Homo sapiens: one gene and its partner. The protein of the gene in region 2 purifies or fractionates together with the protein of the main gene of each other region. This does not show direct contact. Each region holds a gene or a part of one and is shown on either strand. Other genes may lie near its edges.

The links.
Region 1: the proteins of ZNF597 (region 2) and NSMCE2 purify together in Homo sapiens (affinity purification with mass spectrometry; 4 studies listed by BioGRID and IntAct, with this or other methods). This does not show direct contact.

What each region holds. Positions count from the first base shown.
Region 1 is NC_000008.11:125,094,860-125,101,859, reverse strand, and holds part of NSMCE2 (E3 SUMO-protein ligase NSE2), read right to left. Parts: intron 2,407-7,000; exon of another isoform or gene 2,303-2,406; intron 1-2,302. UniProt on the Homo sapiens protein: E3 SUMO-protein ligase component of the SMC5-SMC6 complex, a complex involved in DNA double-strand break repair by homologous recombination. Is not be required for the stability of the complex.
Region 2 is NC_000016.10:3,433,150-3,440,786, forward strand, and holds part of ZNF597 (zinc finger protein 597), read right to left. Parts: intron 4,390-7,637; coding exon 3,275-4,389; 3' UTR 1-3,274. UniProt on the Homo sapiens protein: May be involved in transcriptional regulation.

The sequences.
Region 1 (7,000 bases), on a different chromosome or scaffold from region 2:
TGTAAAAAAAAGAGAAAATCTATATTCCTGCCAGTTCCTCTGGCTTCTAACAGATTAATAGACTTGGTGAGATCCCAGAGTCAGTGAAAGCAGAATTTCTGTATAAACTTGTCTTCTGGCAGCACATCCACTATAACAGTTTCAGTTATTACCTTCATATTTAACACTTCCTAATCTATATCTTCAACCACAATTTGTTTCAGCTTAGTAAAGCAATGTAAAGCTGCCTACAAAAGGACATCTCTGCTTAATTCAGAAGCCATTTGAAACTCAATCCACTGAAACCAACTAGAAAAGTGGGGAGAATTCACAGTTTTAAAGGGATGGGAGGGCTATTAACAAGGCTCTATGGCAGCAGAAAAAGGGGTATTTTCATGGAATCAGATAGACATAACATGAAGACTGCTAAACATCTCTGAATCTCAGCTTTACCATCTTTAAAATGGAAAGGAATAACCATGGTATGGTATAGCATACAGTACACAATTAATTAGCATTAGAGCCTTCCCTTCTGCCCTTCCTAAGTGGGGAACTGTGTAGTATCTCTGGCATTTCCATCCTCATCATTGCTACCACCTTCATCTCACAGCTGAACTACTATTGTAGTTTCTCCATTATTAGTCCTTTTTAATTAGGTTCATTCATTCATTTCACTCATAAGTATTGAGTACCTACCATGTCAATCATGAGACCCATTCAAAAATCCACAGGATATAAAAAGAGAAGGGCATAGAGACATGCAAGATGCACAGAGATGCATAAGATTTCTAATTTGAAGTGTTTGTTTACCTCAAACATCCACAGTACAACTCATTGTCAGTTCAAATATTTAGTATCTCTTTAAGTGCCAGGCACTTCCTTTAGCATGAGAATACCACAGTTTTCAAGATGAGCACTCTTAAGACACTCTCCTTTTAAAGAATTATTTTGTTATTCTAATTTGATGAAAACCTATCATGAGCCAGGCACTATCCCAGGCACTAGAAATATTCAGCCTTTGGCCAGGCGCAATGGCTCACACCTGTAATCCCAGCACTTTGGGAGGCTGAAGCAGGAGGGTCACCTGAGGTCAGGAGTTCAAGACCAGCATGGCCAACATGGCAAAACCCTGTCTCTACTAAAAATACAAAAATCAGCAGGGCATGGTAGTGGGCACCTGTAATCCCAGCTACTCGGGAAGCTGGGCAGGAGAATTGTTTGAACCTGGGAGGCGGAGGTTGCAGTGAGCCAAGATCATGCCACTGCACTCCAGCCTGGGCAACAGAGCAAGACGCGGTCTCAAAAAAATAAAAATAAAAAAAATTCAGCCTCTACTCCCAGGGGCTCACCACTGAGTAGGAGAGACAGAGATAAAACATAAACCTGATAATTAAAGCAACATGGGAGTTACTGCAAAGCTGAGGCACAGATAAGAAAATGCTCAACTTTGCCTGACTGGATCAAAGAAGGGAACATAGAACTGAGTTTAAAGGATAAAAGACGAAGTTTAACAGATGGAAGGGTAATGGAGAAGGGCATTCAGGCAAAGGAAAAGGCAGGTAGGAATGAAGTGCACAAATCATTGCAGAGTACATAAGACAATACTTGACTTTTCCTGATTCTATTATGCTCTTTTACGACTCCTCTCACTAGAAACTTCCAACACTTCCTCCTCTATCCTCACTCTCACTGAAAGATCTAGTTTCCTAATTTCCTGAGGAAACAGAAGCAGTCAGAATAGAAATTTTGCAAGCTCCCACCGCTTACCTCTCCACCTATCAGCATCAGTTCTCATACACTCTGCTTTCCCTCCTGTTAAAATGAATAAACTGTTGCTCCTAGATAAGGCCACCTCCACTCCAATTATCCACTAGATCCTATCCCTCCCTCCCTACTCTAAGACATTCTCCCAGCAATTCTCCCTGCTTTCCTGCATCATTAAATTTTCCCTCTCTACTGAATCATTCCCTTCAGCAAACAAATACACCATTACTTCTCCCATCTCAAAAACATCCTCCGACTTTCCTCCCACTTACCCCTCTGGTTACCAGCCCCATTTCTCTACTCAGCCTTAGAGCAAAACTCGTCTGTAGATTTGTATACATTTGTCTCCAAATCCTCTCCTTCCATTCCCTTTGGAACCCACCCCCACTAGGGTTCCATCTCTATCACTCCACTGCAACTGCTCTTGTCAAGGTCACCTGAAAAGACTTAATGTTAAATTTGTTATCAATGCTCAGCCCTATCTCCTTTGACCTATCAGCCAGCAGTATGCAACACAGTTAATCACTCCCTTCCTGATGCACTTTCTGCACCTGCCTACCTTGTTCTTGTTCTCATTCTCCTTTCTGTTTCCTCTCCATCTCCTTGAGCTCCATATGTTGTAGGGTCCCAGGTTCAGAATCCAAGCTTCTTTTTCTTCTCCTTCTATACCCAAATCAAATACAGCCCTGCCTCAGGGCTATGCCTTCTTGGTTCCCTCTGCCATGATACTGGTCCCCTAGATATCTACTAGGTCAATTCCCTTACTTCTCTAAGGTCTCCCTTTGAGTATCACCTCATCAGTAAGGCCTTCCCTGGCCATCTGATATACAACGGCAAGCCCTCCCAATCTCCACCCCCAGGCATTCCCACCCTTCTGCTTCTGCTTTATCTTTCCTCAAGGCAGGTATTGCCAAACGACATTCTTGTATTTATTAGGTTTATAGTGTCTAGTCCCCAATTACACTGTAAGTTCCTTAAACTTACAGACTTTTTGACTTTTTCTGTTTTGTTCACTGCTGTATTCCAAGCACCTAAAACAACGCATGGCACATTAGTGGCCATTCAACAAAGGCTTGCTGAAAGAAGGAATGAATGTAATACTATGTATCTCCAGCACCTAAAACAGCACATGTCTCCAAAACTGTAGTATAGGTGGTATGCCCAGGGCTCAGTGCTCTGATCTCTCTTTTCCATCCTCTCCCATCCACCTAGTGTTCCCAACTAGACCCATTCCATCTAAATACCATTGGCAAGATCACTCCAGAACTTAAAACGTCCAACATGGAAGGCCCACATTCCTTCTCTCCCACCCTACCCCTCCCCCAAACCTACTCCTTTTACAACCTGCCCCATCTTACTAAATAGCAACTCCATCCTTCCATTTGTTGAACCAAAACTCTTGGTTCATACTTGATCCTTCTCCTCCTCCCCTCATATCCTATACCAAACTCAACATCAATTTTGCCAGCTCTGTAGTCAAACTATCTCCAGAATCCAACCACTCTCACCAATTCTGCTGATAACACCGTGATTCAAACCATCATCTCTTGCCTGAATTACTCCAACAGTCTCCTACCTGGTCTCCCTGCTCTCAGTCTTGCCTCTTCCACCCTATTCTCAACACAGCAGCCAGAGTAAACCTTTGAAAATGTACGTAAGATCATGTGACTCCTCTGCTCAAAAACTCCTAAGGACTTCCTGACTCACCGGGAGTAATGGCCAAAGAGCTTCGTAATAACTGACAATAGTGGTTCTCCAAATGGTTCCTGACCAAGTGTCACCAGCATCACCTATGAACTTGTTAGAAATGCAAATTCTCAGGCCCCAACAATCTACGTTTTAACAAGTCCTCTATGTAATTCTAACTCTGATATATCTAGGAGACATGTAGTGTCAGTGTATTGAATCATCTGATGGGCCCATTAAAACACTGATTGCTGGACCTCACCCTCAGAATTTCTAATTCAGTATGTCTGGGAAGGGACCTAAGAATCTGCATTTCTAACAAATTTCCAGGTAATGTAGATTTTGCTGATCCAAGAATTACACTTTGAAGACCACTGTTCTACATTATCTGGCCATTGCTAGTCCTTTAATAACCCAGGCATGCTTCACCTTAAGGTCTTTGAGCTTGCTAATAAGACAGAGATGCCAGTAATAAAGACAGAAAAAAGCAGGAAGGGTTGGTCCTAACTCCCTCCTGCCTATATAATAAAATTCAACATAATTAGCACAGTATCCAAAGCTTTCTACAATATAATGCAAACACGCTTTTCAAATCAGAGATTCTACTTTTCACCAAGACTTAAATCATACATTTCATATAACCTTAACTATTTGATATTCCAGAATAAACATAACTCCTTTCTGCCACAACCCCTCAAAACAGGCTTGGCAGAGAACAAGTTCCATATTAAAAGAATGAACCAAGTACTATGAAGTTGAAAAAAGAAACCGATTACACAAACCCACTATGCTACAATGTTCAAGAAAGGAAAGGATTATAGGCACAACAGGGGAGACATAGGCTTCACGGAAATGAAGGCACTTAAGCTGGACCATAAAAGGTACTCAGGATTTGGAAAGGTCTAAATTATCAGGGAGAGCTGTTCAGATGAAGGAAGCAGTGAGATGAAAAAAGATCATAAGGTAGTAAACGATGAGATGAGTTCCCTTTGCCTGGCATACAGGTACAAAGGAATGGGAAGATAACTGGATTTCATTCTTTGGGAATATAGTGTAGACAGCCTTAAGTACAGGATAAAGATTCACTCCAGTTGGGTCTAGTGGTCATCATGGAAATTTGAGCTCTATGTATTTTCAAAACTTTACCTTAAAAATCAAGACCTGAAACAAATATGGCAAAATGTTAAAGATGTTAAAATCTGGGTGATGAAACAAGGGTTCTTGTTGTGTTCTTTTCTGGGACTTTACAGTTCCACATCAAAAAAGAAAAAATACAAACAGGAATAAAAGCCAATGATGATCTTCAAACATTTGCATTGAAAGAGACTGCTTGTTTACAATCTCACTGTATTATACCAAACAAGTTGAGACATTTTACACAATATAAATACAAACATACACAAAAAGATGGAAAAACATAAATTCAGAAAAACCAGGATCAAAAAACAGAAATTTACGGGCAAACCAAGCATATGAGAAAGTTATAATGGAGTCACGCACACTTTAGGATTCTACACAGAGGGCCAGGTGTGGTGGCTCCCGCCTGTAATCCCAGCACTTTGGGAGGCCGAGGCAGTTGATCACTCGAGGTCAGGAGTTCAAGACCAGCCCAGCCAACATGGTGAAGCCCCATCCCTACTGAAAATACAAAAATTAGCTGGGCATGGTGGTACACACCTGCAGTCCCAGCTACTCGGGAGGCTGAGGCAGAAGAATCGCTTGAATCCTGGAGGCAGCAGTTGCAGTGAGCTGAGATCACAAAAAGACTCCGTATGAAAAAAAAAAAAAAAAAAAAAGGATTCCACACAGTACTAGTAATACACATTTGGTAGTGAGCTTCCTCACAATCAAAACAAAAAGTGACAGTTATTTTCTCCAAAAAAAAAAAACAAATAACACTAGAAACTCAAGAAAAAAATAAAGCTTTCCATGGCAATCAAGGCAAGTATGGATCATCATATATGAGATAATGGGTTACACTGAAAAAAATAATCCTCAAAAATATCCTTATAGTAAATGCAATAGCAAACTTCTAGGACTGTTTCTTGAGACTATTTCTCAGGGCAGGTAAGGACAAAACACTTGTGACAGATACTGGACAGGTGCCCACCAAAACCATTTCCTCTTCAACCCGGTTACATGCCTATATATGCTCCACATTTTCCAGCCTTCCTTGAAGTTAGCTGTGGCCTATGACTGTACCCAAGGCAATGAAATGTGAGCCATTTCCAGGCCTAATCTGCAAAAAGCCACATTTTCCCATTTGATAGCTTGATGCAGGCAAGCATAGGGACCTTAGTAAAGCTATATGCTGATGATAGAGAATTACTGCATGGAAGGAGCTCAAGGCCCTACATCACTGCTTGGAGGAAAACTACTCACCTATCAGGCTCCATGCATGAAAGAAACTTCAACTGGGCAAAGCCATTTAGACTTGTGGGGTTTACCTGTTACAGTACTAAGTATTAATCAAAAAACACAAACCTGCAAGGACCAAATGATATAATTCCAGTATTCAATTTTCTTTTCTTTTTTTTTTTTTTTTTTTGAGATGGAGTTTTGCTCTTGTCCCTCAGGCTGGAGTGCAGTGGCACTACCTTGGCTCACTGCAACCTACGCCTCCCAGGTTCATGCAATTCTCTTGCCTCAGCCTCCCCAGTAGCTGGGAGCTACATGCCAGGCTAATTTTTGTATTTTTAGTAGAGACGGGGTTTCACTATGTTTGCCAGGCTGGTCTCAAACTCCTGACCTCAAGTGATCCACCGGCCTCGGCCTCCCAAAGTGCTAGGATTACAGGCGTGAGCCACTGCCCCTGGCCTCGGTTTTCTTTTTGTTTTTGAGACAGGGTCTTGTTCTGTCACCCAGGCTGGAGTGCAGTGACATGATCATGCTCGCTACAGCCTCAACCTCCCAGGCTCATGTGATTCTCCCACATTAGCCTCTCAAGTAGCTGGGACCACAGGCGCGCGCCACCACTTGGCCAATTTTTCTTTTTTAATTTTTAGTAGAGACGACCATCTCCCTGTGTTGCCCAAGCTGGTCTCAAACTCCTGAGCTCAAGTGATCCTCCCAACTCGGCCTCTCAAGTGCTGGGATTATAGGCATGAGACACCATGATCAGCAGAAGTATTCTGTTTTCTACTCAGTCTTGATTCTAGTGTAAGTCTAAATTGTCCAGAGCAGCATTGTCCAATAGAACTTTCTGTGATGAAAACGTTCTATAATCTGCACTGTCCAATATGATAGGCACTAGGCACATGTGTACTGATTATCTAAAACCTGGCTGGAAAGGTGGCTCATGCCTATAATCCCAGCACTTTGGGAGGCCAATGTGGGAGGTTGGCTTGAGCCCAGGAGTTCGAGACCAGCCCAGGCAATAAAGTGAGACTCTGTCTTTACAGAAAATAAAAAATTAGCTGGATGTGGTGGTGCGGGCCTGCAGCCCCAGCTCCTCAGGAGGAGATGTGGTAGGATCGCTTGAGCCGGGAGGTTGAGGTTGCAGTAAGCCATGATCACGCCACTGCACTCCAGCCTGGGCAACAGAGCGAGACCCTCTTTTCTCAAAAAAAAG
Region 2 (7,637 bases):
TTAAATGAGGAGGTGTCAATAGACTACCACCTGTAGCAACAAAGCTCTAAATAAAACTATTCTGAGTCGACCTCATTCAAAACAACTACATTCCACAATTTCTTAAATTATAAAATGTAAACTGCTGACATCTGAATTCCATTGGAAAAATGCTGTTTTCATCAATGACGACTGTTTAAAAGACTGTTTAACTATTCCAGCAATCATGTTAAGGAACTGTTGGATATACATTTTCATCACTGCATCAACGACAAAAACGGAGAAATTTGTCTGAGTCAATTTATTCAGCACAAAGTTTTCACTCTCATAGTGTGTTGATTTCCATGCTGCAAAATGCAGTTAACCAATCATTCATAGCAATAAACTCTTGCATTTAGTTTTTCATTCCCATATTAACTTTTATCCAGTATTTGTGAATAGCACCTAACATGGAAGGCTAGTATCTGAGTTAATGACAATTTTATGGAATTTATCTCCATCAGTTGACACTGTAAACAGAAGGGTGAAATGCCATCATCATAAAAAGCCTGAAGCTCACCAGCAGATATATCTTTTCCTTCAATTCCCTGGGGGTAAAGCAGCTTGAATTACATCTAGCAAATGTATTTAAGTACAACTGCACAATAAGCACAACTGAAAATATGCCTCTTTCACAGTAACTGACACTTCCGGGGTTTTCATTTTTTTCTGCATACTAATCATTAACAGTATTATACCAAAAAGCCATTTTAGTTCTACCCACACGTATGTTAATGTTTCTGAAAAGGGCTATTTTTTCTAATCTTTTAGGAAGTTTGTCGTAATCTTCCAAAATCTGGAGAAAACTGCAAAAAAAAAAATTAGAGGTTAATTGTGAAGGAAGACTCGTGTGGAAAGGCAAACTTCCATATTAAGGTGCAGAACAGGATGTATGGCACAAATTCTCACTTTCTGCTATATTTTCTAGGAGCCAAAACAAAAATGACAGCATACATCTTTTATATCACCCCCATTCTGTCCAAGTGCCTTCTAAGATATTCCCCTCTACTTCTTTCTGCAGCAACTCTGCTAATCCAGACCTTTCCCAATTTCATCCCCCATCCTGTGACTCATTAGATCTTTGACTGAACTCTTAGGGCCCCTGATATGTGCTGATGAGGCTCCTGCCAGTTTCTCCCACTGAGGGCAGAAGCAGGAGAGCAAGGAGGTGGTGTTCTTGTTATTTAACAAAGGTCATGGTATCTCAGAGTTGCCTAATAAGTAATCTAACTGGAGACTATCTTTCTACACATTTCAAAGCACCTCAGAGAAACCTGGAAGCTGGTGTCCTGTCTCCTAAGAGTGGAGACATCAGAAACAAACAGCCAAAGTCTGACCTTGACATACAGAGCAGCACATTGTCTCAACTGTGGATCTGCAAACAAGAAACAAGACAAGAATGACAAAGAGAGAGAAACTCTCTCTGGGTTAGGGATGTTTTTGTTAGTTTCAGTTTTTCTCTCACCTGAACAGTATCTTCCTGCCTCTACTCAGTAATAAGAGCTTAGCTGAGTAGCCAGCATTTTTTGTATATTTAGTCCTCAATCTGCTGTTCTGTAGGACCACCTTCTGCTACCTTCCATATAATTAGTCCTCAAGAGTCCTTTATCTTTTCTCCCAGCAAAAATTCCCAGCAACAATTCAATTTTAGCAAATATTGTACTTTTATACTGTCTATTTAAATAGAATGAGAGCATTCTTCCATCCTAATCAAAACCCATGTAAATATTGTTTTGCTGATAGGCATACAATCGACTTTAATGAGAAATTGTATATGAATCTATATTTACAACATTCTGTGGTTCTTTAACATTAATAACCATACCATTTAATAATATTTTGCTCCAGTATTTATCTATAATAGCAATATCTAAAGATCTATATATTATCAAGTATTTTGGTTAAAATCTAACAATTTTCTATATGCATTTTCTTTGGAGATGGAGAGGAAATGTTATGGGTGTTTTTTAAAAAACCAAAACCCAGTTAAGACCTTCAGTATTGTACTCTGCCAAGTGTGAAATCTCTCATCTGATTAGAGGGACAAGAATTCAAACCTGAAGTCCTGGAGAGTCTTCTGCTGCTTTGTAACTGTATATGTTAGTCAGGCTTTGGGTACAGCACAAAGGGAATGAAGGGGTTCCAGGATGCAAGCACACAGAATCGCCTCCATGAGGACCACCCTCACCTATCTCAGCTCCCCTTTCCCTGGCTGCCTGCAGTGCTACTACGTGGTGCAAATGCCAACAAATGCCGCAGTCTTGCAGACTGCATGGCCTTTGGAGTCAGAGAAACCCAAGCTTAATGTCAGTTTCACCACAATGTGATTTGTGTGCTGGGCAAAGAACTGACTTTACCCTCTGAGGACTTCAGTTTCCTCGTTTATGAAACAAAGATTTTTTTTCTCTGTCACAGATTCTGAAGATTAAATTACATAATATATCTAAAGTAGCTAGCATGCTCACTGAGAAACAATTACAATTATTCATAGTAAGACAGGTAATGTGCTTCAGTAGCAATTTGGAGGCAAATCTTAGAAAAGAGCAAGTACTTCTCCCCCTCCCCAAGTCAAGTCCAGCCTCCAGAAAAGGGCTGCAGTTAGACTTCCAAAACTCCTTGCAAACAATTGGGTCCTAAATGCCAGTATGTGCCCCTGGCATCAGAACCATGACAGAGAACTCCGGATACTAATGGCCATCAAAATATAAACTAGTCTACCCATTTGGGAACTTTTACAGGGCAGAAAAAAACTTCTGAACGCCTGTGGGAATTCACATGTAGAACAGCAATCTTATACAAGTATTACATTCAAATAGTTATAGCAAAAAAAAGTATAAAACATATAAAAGCATTTACTTTCCTAGATATGTCTGCAGAACTGGCAAAATATAAATAAATTCTCCTCCTTCTAAAAGTCAGAAACTACGTAAACAAAATTAAAATAACTTTAGCAAGAGCCTTCATTTTAATGAAAATTGAATTTAAACAAAAGTTGTGTATCTTCTTCTGGCTCACAGTTGTACAGTAACTGAGTTCAAATCCTGGGTTCATTCACTAGTTTAGTGACACGGATTTTGCATCCCTACTTATAAAATGGAAATGATACTGCCTAAATCACGGTTGTGCTGAGAATTAAGTATTACATGGGAATGTGTGTAAAGTGCTTAGCACATTGCCTGGGACATATACAGTAACTGCTTCCCACCATACAGATACTGAAAAGCCCAATCACTAATAACAATTTGTTATATTTACTTTACGTGGTGTTTTTTATGTGAGTTCGCTTATGAGTAATGAGATGCAAATTCGACTTGAAAGTTTTCCCACACACGGTACATTTAAAAGGTTCCGCTAGCATGTGGCTCTTCTGGTGGCATGCAAGTTCTGAGTCCAAAGCAAAACTTTCCTCGCATGTTTTGCACTTATGGGGCCTTTCCTCTGTATGAATGTTCTGATGGGAAATAAGCTCAGAGAAACAAGGAAAGGTCATGTCACAGTCAGGACACTGTAAGGGCTTGAATTTTGAGAATGAGAAGAAATTGTCCCCATCATCGCTGCAGCGTTCAGAGTCCTCGTCGTGGCTCTTCTCGGAAAGGGCAGGATATAAGGACTGCCTGAAGCTCTTCATGCACTTAGTGTGCTGGTACTGGGGGCCTGATACGAATGTTTCCTCAGGCAAAGCAAGATTTGGTTTCTCATTAAAATGTTTATCACAGTTAGTAGATTCGTAGGTGTTTTCAGCACTGTGGCTTTTCTGATGCTGTGCCAATCCTGGGAGCCACATAAAACCTCTACCACATATGCTACATGTATAGGGCTTCTCCTTTACGTGGCTATTCATGTGTCGGGATAGATGAGAGTGCTGGCGAAAGCTGGCACTGCACTTGGCACACTTATAAGGTTTCTCACCAGTATGGATTCTCCTGTGTGTCCTCAGGTTGGCTCTATGATTGAAGATCTTTCCACAGTCACCACATTTATGTTTTTTCTCTCCTGAATGAATTTTCTGATGCAAAACTAGGTATGAATGATCGCTGAAGTTTTGGTCACACTCAGGACATTTGTACACATTTTTGGCTCCTTCCCAGGGAGAATCAAGAATTTCAGAAAGTGTGTTGGTTCCTAAATATTCAGAGAGTTCTACTAATGGGGTGTGGTTTTCAATGGTAACTAAAAGGCTGATGACCCTTCTCTTGTAAGTGGGAGTTCCACTTAATATTTTCGCTTCAGGGTTTCCAACTCCATCCTCAGAGGATTTTTCTGGGTAAGGGACAAGGGGTGCAGCAATGGGGTACTTTTCTAAGGCAAGCTCGTCAAGTTCCATAGACTCTAGGCTTAACTGCTGATTAATCTCAGGCTTGCCTTCCTCTCCTGTTGATAAAAACAAAAGAAAGCAAAACATAGACAATATCTTCAAGGGATACTGGGGAAAAAGTAAGCTAAGGTAGTTACAAACAGGACCAGGAAACCTTAGAAGGGTTATTCTATAACCCAGACACTAACCACACAAAATCAGGACCAAGCAGACTCTCCTGGCCTCCCAGAAGATCCAGTTTTGGGTGAATATCCAAAGGTAAGGAGAGAATAGCTATAACTAAGTCAGAGTCCAGTGGGATAGGTACTAAGGACAATCTCAGTAGCAGCTATCTAGAGGTGAACTTTTCCATCTAATCTATTTAGGCCTCAAGAGCCTTTCATTTTTGAAGCTATCTCAAGTGACAGCAGAACAATTAACAATTGGAAAAAAGATTAGGATTCATATTTATCAACAAAGAGAGGGGTTGGGCAGTGTCTCACGTCTGTAATCTCAGCACTTTGGGAAGCTGAGGTGGGAGCATCACTTGAGGCTAGGAGTTTGAGACCAGTCTGGGCAACACAGTGAGACCCCATCTGTACAAAAAATAATTTTTAAAAATTAGCCAGGCATGGTGGCACATGCCTATAGTCCTAGATACTCAGGAGGCTGAGACAGGAGGATCACTTGAGCTCAGGAGTTTGAGATGTGCCATTGCACTCCAGCCTAGGTGACAGAGCCAGAACTTGTTTCTTAAAAAAAAAAAAAAAAGATGACAGCAAGAATGAGTGGGAAAGAAAATAATTTTTAAAAAGAGGCTGGGCACGGTGGCTCACACCTGTGATCCCAGCACTTTGGGAGGCCGAGGCGGGTGGATCACGAGATCAGGAGATCAAGACCATCCTGGCTAACACGGTGAAACCCCATCTCTACTAAAAAAAAATACAGAAAATTAGCTGGGCGTGGTGGCCTGCGCCTGTCGTCCCAGCTACTCGGGAGGCTGAGGCAGGAGAATGGCGTGAACCCAGGAGGCGGAGCTTGCAGTGAGCCGAGATCGCGCCACTGCACTCCAGCCTGGGCGACAGAGCAAGACTCTGTCTCAAAAAAAAATAATAATAATAATTAAAAAAGAAAAAAGAAAAAAAAGCAATCAAGTGAGCATTTTTCTTCCATAACAAAGAAACACACGGGTTATCAGAAATAGTTTTATTATCACCAGGAGAACTCTCCAAAATCTCTTTACTCCTCACTGAGGAAAGATCAAGGTAGAAGGCTGTGTGTACTGCATGAAAATAACAGCCAATCTACTTACAAGAATGGCTGACAAAACTAACATTCCTGTGTAATATTTTCCAAGTATTCTTCAGTTATAAAGCAAATATATCAATACAAAAGGAACTTTTCTTTCCAGAGAAACAAAGTTCTACAGTTTTCCCAACTCACTGACTAGAAAGGGCTGCAGTATAGTTCATGGGAATCCAAACAGTACCAAGTGGTTTTGCTGATTTGAGGGGACTGAGTTCAGAGATCAGGGATGCCAAGGCAGCTAGAATTTGAAAGCAAAACAGCAAAGAGGCAGCTGTTCAGAAAGAGAGCTCAGGTCATCTACATGGGGTCCCCTTAAGACTTTCCTGAGGCTAGGTACAGTGGCTCAAACCTGTAATCCCAGCACATTGGGAGGCTGAGGTGGGAGAATTGCTTGAGCCACGGAGCTCGAGACCAGCCTGGGCAACATGGCAAAGCCCCATCCCTACAAAAAAAAAACAACAAAAAAAGACAAGCATGGTAGTGCATGCCTGTAGTCCCAGCTACTTGGGAGGCTGAGGTGGGAGGACTGCTTGAGCCTGGGAGGTCAGGGCTGCAGTGAGCCGTGATTGTGCCACTGCACTCCAGCCTGGGTGACAGATCAAGATACTGTATCAAAAAAAAAATAACCCCACAACTTTGGCTGAGTAGTAATCTACAAGTGCATGAAGAAACTACCCAATGCCGTGGAAAGAACCACCTAAAAGGAATAACAGAGCAATAACCAGTTCATGTTGCCTCCAGCCAAAGTGGAAAGACATAAGACATTGAGCAGCAACGTCCACAGAAAAAAACTGCCTTAGCAGTAACTCAAATAAGTCCTAGCAGAAAGGTTGATCTGAACCTATCCTAACAAAGCAAAAAAAAAAAGCACACCTTGAAACAGTCAAACTGACTCCAAGTAACTTAACTGCCTCCCACAACAAAGTCCAAAATATTTTTAAAAATACAACGAAATCCCGGGTCCAACAACATAAAATTCTTAATCTAACATCCGACCAAAATTTACCCAGGAAGTAAAGAAAATATAGAAAATATAACCCATAACTAGAAGACAAATCAATCAATAGAAACAGACCCAGAAATGACATCAATGTTAAAACTAGCAAGAAAAAAAAGTTTAAATAACCATTATAAATATACTCCATACATTTACGCAGACAGAAGACAACATGAACATGATGAAGAGAGAAGTGGAAGAAACAAAATATGAGTTATTCAGAATAACTAGTTACTCTAGTTATTTTTTTCTGACTAGGATTGAGTATCTCAACTATTCCAAACTATTTAGAATAACTACTTAGAATAGATAGTTTAGATACTCAATCCTAGTCAGAAATAAAATCTAGTCAGGCACAGGAGTCCATCTGTGTATGGTTCCCCTTAGGTGAGTAAGGCATAGCACCCCTTAAGAGTAAATCAATCTCCAGTCTTTAGCAAATGATAGTGATCGATACTAATGGGATTTCCCAAGTAAAATTGTAAACTGCAACAAATGTTTGTGAAAGATTACCAAATACTGCCATCTCTTGTACTAAACCACAGGCACTGTACTAGACTGAATTTTTGTCTTTAAGAGATCATCTCGGCCGGGCTCAGTGGCTCATGCCTGTAATCCCAGCACTTTGGGAGGCCGAGGCGGGTGATCACAAGGTCAGGAGATTGAGACCATCCTGGCTAACACGGTGAAACCCTGTCTCTACTAAAAATACAAAAAATTAGCTGGGCATGGTGGCAGGCGGCTGTAGTCCCAGCTACTCGGGAGGCTGAGGCAGGAGAATGGCGTGAACCTGGGAGGCGCGGTTTGCAGTGAGCAGAGATCGTGCCACTGCACTCCAGCCTGGGCAACAGAGCGAGAGTCTGTCTCAAAAAAAAAAAATCATCTCATATTTTAAAACTTTTTCTCTCACACAATTATCACCTCCACATAAATTACTGAGGGACAGGTCCCACTCCACCATACCAACATCTGGATAAAGCATGAAGTTCTCCTCCTAGAATTGACAAAAGTTCCAGATGC